2 linked regions of the Homo sapiens genome follow. The protein of the gene in region 1 purifies or fractionates together with the protein of each later gene. This does not show direct contact. Each region holds a gene or a part of one and is shown on either strand. Other genes may lie near its edges.

Region 1 (3,500 bases):
GATGCATCTATTGATAACCAGACTCAGGTATCTGGAGCCAGGTTAAAGCATCCCAGCCTACAACCAGCCTCTCTAATACTACCTACAGCCAATGGACCAGGTGAGCCACCATCCTCAGGGGTCAGGCCCAGAGACTGAAGTCAGACTTCCACGGTCACAGGACAGCTTCAGTCCCTCATGCCGACTGGGCAGCCTGCCCTTGACTCCTCTATCCTCCTCCATCTCCCCTACCCACATAGGCACCAAGCTCCTCCAACTGCTCTTAGCTCCTGCGAGTCAGCCTCTACGGTCCCTGCAACCATGGGTCAGGCCTCATTGAATCCCAGTTTTCCAGCCTCCCAGCTGGTTCTCACTAGTTCCCATTTGTCTTCAGCACCAGCCACCAGGTGACCCTGGGTGGAGATTCAGTCCTCACCCATTCCAGGAGGGGCACCTGTGGTGAGGCTGGTGAGCCCATCTGTCTGGCTCCCTCATTACCCCAGTCCCTGGGCTCCAGCCCCCAGGCTGCATGTCACCTACTAAGGGCACACTACCCTCCCGTTGGGTGTGTGGCCACATGGCTCTGCCCAGGCCATCTCAGCCTCAAGGTCCCCCACTCCAGGATCCTGTTCTAGGATAACCCCTACCATGACCCCTCCCAGGGGCATGGCTCATCCCTCATGATGTCCTGACTGGTATCAGCTCCCTACCCACTTCACACTAGCATTTTCTTTTTGAGATGGAGTCTTGCTCTGTTGCCCAGGCTGGAGTGCAATGGTGCCATCTCAGCTCACTGCAACCTCTGCATCCTGGGTTCAAATGATTCTCCTGCCTCAGCCTCCTGAGTAGCTGAGATTACAGGCACGCGCTACCACACTCGGCTAATTTTTTTGTGTTTTTAGTAGAGATGGGTTTCACCATGTTGGCCAGGCTGGTCCTGAACTCCTTACCTCGTGAGCTGCCCACCTTGGCCTCCCAAAGGGCTGGTATTACAGGCGTGAGCCACCATACCTGGCCGCATCATCTTATACCCACTCCCAGACTGGTTCAAGGGCAGGGACAAAGTCCCCTGCACCCCATGCTGAGGCCAGCACAGGACCCAGTGTTGTCCTTGGGAGCCATAGTTTCTCCTCCCACTTCAGGGCCTGAGTTCACAGGCACGTGCTTGATGCCAGGGGCTTGAGGACCACAGAAGAGTAGGCCACCACCGCCCAGGTCAGATTCTAGAACGCAGCCTAGCACTATTTTATTATTATTTTTTGCGATGGAGTATCGCTTTGTTGCCCAGAATGGAGTACAGCAGTGCAATCTCGGCTCACTGCAGCCTCTGCCTCCTGGGTTCAAGCAATTCTCCTGCCTCAGCCTCCCAAGTAGCTGGGATTATAGACACCCGGCTAATTTCTGTGTTTTTAGTAGAGATGGGGTTTCACCATGTAGGCCAGACTGGTCTTGAACTCCTTGACCTCAAGCGATCCACCTGTCAGCCTCCCAAAGTGCTAGGATTACAGGATGAGCCACTGCACCTGGCCCCAGCCTAGCACTATTGGAAGGCCATTTCTGAACCCTAAGGGCCGAGGCTGGCATAGTACCACCACCAGGGCTGAGCAGCTCTGAAGCTTCCGCTAAGCTGCAGTTGGGCTCCTGATACTCTTCTGGGGCTCGAACTAGACTCAGCAGGCCCCACAATCCCACGCAGTACAGTAACCACAGCTGCAAATGCTTCGGTAGGTAGTTCTAATAGCCATGCTGCAAGCTGTAGCCCATAGCCAGCCCACTTGCCTGCAGCCACACCCAAGGGGCTTTTGCACCAGGGGCCATGAGTCAGTCCCACACCGACCTGGGGTAGCGGCACTCGATGGGAATCTCTGCGCGGTTAGTCCTCACGATGGACAGGTTTCCCACGGGGCGGGGGTCATGGAGCAGGAAGGTGCTGTACACCAGGGCATCGTCAGTTACCTGGAGGAAAGGTGAGAAGTTAATGCTGCCGGCCATCACCTGCCCGGGTACTCCCAAGCCATACCTGAGTGCTCAGGGAGGGCAGCCCACAAGGGGACAGAAAGACCACAGGGTCAAGGCCAGGTGCAGTGACTCATGCCTGTAACCCCAGCACTTTGGGAGGCCAAGGATTGCTTGAGGCCAGGAGTTTGAGACTGGCCTGGGAAACATAGCAAGACCCCATCTCTACAAAAGAGAACACAGGCTCTGCCACTGGTCAGGAAAGAGGCAGGACAGGTACTGTCTTTGTACCTCGGAATCTTTACCTGACACCACATATTGACACCACCACAGGCAGACTGGATCAACCACATGGCAGATACCATGTAACACCCAAGCAATAGAGGCATCAGGGCACATGACACATCCCTTCTGACACTCCCCCTCCATGCCCCCCAGTACATACAGTTTCCTCTTTCAGGAGAGGCCCAGGGCCAAGATAGCCGCCAGGAAGCAGTCAGGAAGTGCCCAGCTGTTAACACTTATCAGCTTCTGGCTGGGCGCTGTGGCTCACGCCCGTAATCCCAGCACTTTGGGAGGCTGAGGAGGGCAGATCATCTGAGGTCAGGAGTTTGAGACCAGCCTGACCAACATGGTGAAACCCCATCTCTACTTAAAAAAAAAAAATTAGCTGAGTGTGGTGGCACGTGCCTGTAATCCCAGCTACTCGGGAGACTGAGGCAGAAGAATCGCTTGAACCCGGGAGGCAGAGGTTGCAGTGAGCGGAGATCGTGCCATTGCATTCTAGCCTGGGCAACAAGAGCAAAACTCTCAAAAACAAAAACAAACAAAAAACACAACAACCCACATCAGCTTCTAACCTATTCAAGCCCATTTCACATAAGGTGGGGGAGACTGATTCAGAGGTTGCCTGAGGCAGGAAGAGCACAGGTGAGTACTACTGGGGAAATTTGCATCGTCCAATAGGGCTGCAGAAGGCAGGGCCTGCCTGGGAGAGAGTTTTATAGCAAACACCTAAGTTCGAAGATTTTGCTAGAATATTAGAAAAATGTGACGCTAGGCCCTACCCCAGTAGAGTGAAGGTATGAGATTCTCTTGAGAATCAGTATTTTTACAACCTTTCCAGGTGATTAGCATAGAGCCAGCACTGGAAACCCCTACTTTAGTCACTTCCTAACCACCTTTTGTTTTTTTGAGATGCAGTCTTGCTCTGTCACCCAGGCTGGAGTGCAGTGGCACGAACTCGGCTCACTGCAACCTCCGCCTCCCAGGTTCAAGCAATTCTCTGCTTCAGCCTCTGAGTAGCTGGAATTACAGGCACGTGCCACCGTGCCTTTTTTTTTTTTTTTTAAATAGAGACAGGGTTTCGCCATGTTAGCCAGGCTGGTCTCGAACTCCTGGCCTCAGGTGATCCACCTGCCTCAGCCTCCCAAAGTGCTGGATTACAGGTGTGAGCCACCATGACTCAACCCCCAACCACCTATTCTAAGCTCACTATCCCCACCTCTCATCTCAGGGAGCTTATTTAAAAACTACTTGAGGGCTGGGTGCAGTGGCTCATGCCT
Region 2 (3,009 bases), on another chromosome or scaffold:
CCTCCCCAGGAAGAGGTTCAGGAAGTTATCAGAAAATTGATATGGTCCAAGTTGATATCACAATGGCACTAAGGAACTGGAGTCCAGTTGACAGATGTCACTCATGTAATTAGTAACAAGGGTTGCTCTGAGTCAGTACCAATAGCCAGCATTAAAGGGCTTCCTTGGCTGCAGAGTAGTAGGACATGGAAACAGTTGTAAGTTGGGGAGGTTCAGAGCCCTGGTGAGTGTCATGGAAGGGAACATCCTACCGGTCCCCTGAGGGCCTGTTTCTCCACTGTAGGGTTCACAAAGCTGAAGGTGAAGATGCTGAAGCGCTGGTGGTGAGAGGGAAATGGAAGATCCAAGGCTTTCTGGACAGGGATCAGCTGGGTCTGATAGTTGTCTCCAATGTAGGGGCAGCTAGACCAAGAGACCCAGCAGTCAGGATGGGCTTCTTTGAGAATTTCAGCACAGGTGTATGAAAGAACCACTTACCCCTTTACCAGGATGGGCCACTGTGGCTGACTCAGGGGGTCAGTGCTGGGTGTTGCCCAACACTGTTGTAGGAGCAGCCCCAGGTAGGGGTCTGTTCTGTGAAGGATGGAGACCTCCACGTAAATGGGATCCCGAAGCAACTTCACCACTGGGTAGTCACCAACACCGTAGTAAGAGCCATAGTTTTTATCTGCAAGAGGCAGAAATAAGGATTTGAAGTAGTAATCTCTCAGTGACTTGAGGGACTGTCACCCCTTTAAATAGCCCCAAGCCCCTTAAGTGTCTTGTTACTAACTTAGGGTCTTCATGCCCCAGAAGACTGGATTTAGACTATAGGCCAGATACTCCAGCCAAGGGGGTCATACCTTTGGCAATCTGAAGTTCCAGAGTGAGGGGTCCAGGCTGGGTCTCAGGAAAGGGTGGTGGGAGAGTGAAAACCTGGACATTGATTGGGAGAGAGTTGCTACTTACTGAGTAGCTGCAGCTGACATGGAGCCTGCAGAGAAACAAGATTTTAGCTAGTTGGTTGTGGGAAGTGGGTGTCAGTTACACATCCTTTCTTTTTAACTCAAGGAAAGCATTAAGTGCTAGACAAGTTTATAAGTGTGATGGATGTGGTTCCTGCCCTGCTGGGAGCTGTATTTTAGTTGGGGAGACCAATATACAAGTAGGACCAATGTTTGAGTTGGAGATAAGCACACAGAAATAAAGATGCATCATGAGAAACAGATGCTTGCCATAGAGAAGATCAGGGAAGACCTTAGAGGTACCCTTGATATGAAGGTGAAAGAAAAACTTGAGGTACAGGGAAAGCGTCACCCAATATAGAGCAAAGCCTGGAGGCAAGGAAGTGCTTGAGGCCCTTTGAGAATTCCATAGAAGAACCAGGCTGCAATCGGGGAATAGTGAGTAAGGGACTGAGAATGTTAGAAGTGAACAGGCTGGAGATGAAGTAGGAGCTGTTTTATGCAGGGTCCTGATGTTCATCTTAAAGATTTTTTTTTTTTGTCCATGGCTTTAAGGTGTGTGATTTGACTGACTTAAGGTTTTAAAGGAATTCTTTTGGCTACAGCATGGACAGTGGAGAAGGCCAGATGTAGAATGGAGAAATGTAGGCTGAAATGTAGAATGGAGAAGGCCAAAATGAGAAAAAAATCTAGTTAAGTGAAATAGCAGAACTCCAGGTGAGCTTGAGGCTTAGGTCGGGTTGGAGACAGCAACACAGATGGACCTAATCAAGTAATGGGCAGTGCAATTGGTGAACCAAGGTAGCAGACAGGTTTTCTCCTATTGCTGAGGAATGCTCATTTGTGGATTCAGGGCTTACCTGAGAATGCCCACCTTATGGCAGATGGGAAGTCATTCTGGCCAAGCCCTTACCTGAAGATGCTGTCACGAGTGACAGAGCCACGGCTCCCATTTTTCACATCCCTAGTTGCCACCAGTTCATTTTCATATACTGCTCGGTCTCCAGTGATCTACAGGAATAGATGGAGAAGTCTTGATCATTTCTGTTAGTGTTATGCTGCTTGACTTGCATCTGGTCTAAGCCCTCAGCAATGCTACCCTGTTGTATGGTATATTTCCTATTACTTCAGCAGAGGTAAGAACACATAGCAGTGACATCCTGGCAAGTTATCACTTCGCCTTATCTCAGGACAAAGGAATAAGAAGGAATTTGAGCACCTAGGAGAGGCAGCTGAAGCACTACCAATTCCAGTCAGCATCCCTGCTGGTTTCTTCTCTATAGCACGGTAAATGACAGCCCCTTAGCTAGATCACAGCTGTGATGGTCTTAGCTGAACACCCAGAAGAGATTAACTTTTTCAGTGATGAGGCATTCTCCTGCCCTAGGGACTCTCCCAAACTCCAAGTAGTAGTCACAAGTATCGTTCACGGCCAACATATTTCAGCTCTCCCCCACTAGTCACTACAACCTTCCCACCCAACTTCCAGAGCCAGGAACAAAGCCCAACTGCTCACCTGTCTTGTGGTGCCACAGGAAGTAAATGGAAACTGGAACAGAACAAAAGCTTGTGTTGCCATCACAGGGTTACACGCACTGTCATTCCTAAGGGCCAAGCGCACAGAATCCAAGAGCAGTGGTGGCGAGGTCACGTTCCGAGACACAGCAATAGAGAAATGGCCCTCTCGGGTACAATGCAAGGTCACTGAAACAGAGCAGCTGTGCTGAAGGCAGGTCATCTCTCCCATTGTGGGGAGAACCAGATGAAAGTCTAACCACTTAGTTACTTTTAATCCCACTGAGAAGCTGGTGACAACTTCCCAGTGACAACCTCAGTGCAAGATCAACCAACCACAGTTTAACCCAGGCTCTAAATGATCTGGGGTTGAGTCTTGCCTCCCTGACTTATTGTGTGACCTCAGGCAAGTATTGCACCTCCTTGCTTCAGTTTCATGTGTTAAGAGGGGGATAGTAGTTCCTACCTCATTTTGCTTGTCAGTTAAGATTAAGATCTTGGAATAGCGTGTGCGATTATTAGGTTGGTAGAGAAGTAATTGCAGCCTTTG

The links. The genes of interacting proteins can lie anywhere in the genome.
Region 2: the proteins of ZP3 (region 1) and ZP4 purify together in Homo sapiens (co-immunoprecipitation; one study listed by IntAct). This does not show direct contact.

The regions. Positions count from the first base shown.
Region 1 is NC_000007.14:76,427,950-76,431,449, reverse strand, and holds part of ZP3 (zona pellucida sperm-binding protein 3 isoform 1 precursor), read right to left. Parts: intron 1,936-3,500; coding exon 1,817-1,935; intron 1-1,816. UniProt on the Homo sapiens protein: Component of the zona pellucida, an extracellular matrix surrounding oocytes which mediates sperm binding, induction of the acrosome reaction and prevents post-fertilization polyspermy.
Region 2 is NC_000001.11:237,884,914-237,887,922, forward strand, and holds part of ZP4 (zona pellucida sperm-binding protein 4 preproprotein), read right to left. Parts: intron 2,649-3,009; coding exon 2,461-2,648; intron 1,956-2,460; coding exon 1,858-1,955; intron 974-1,857; coding exon 843-973; intron 668-842; coding exon 478-667; intron 403-477; coding exon 252-402; intron 1-251. UniProt on the Homo sapiens protein: Component of the zona pellucida, an extracellular matrix surrounding oocytes which mediates sperm binding, induction of the acrosome reaction and prevents post-fertilization polyspermy.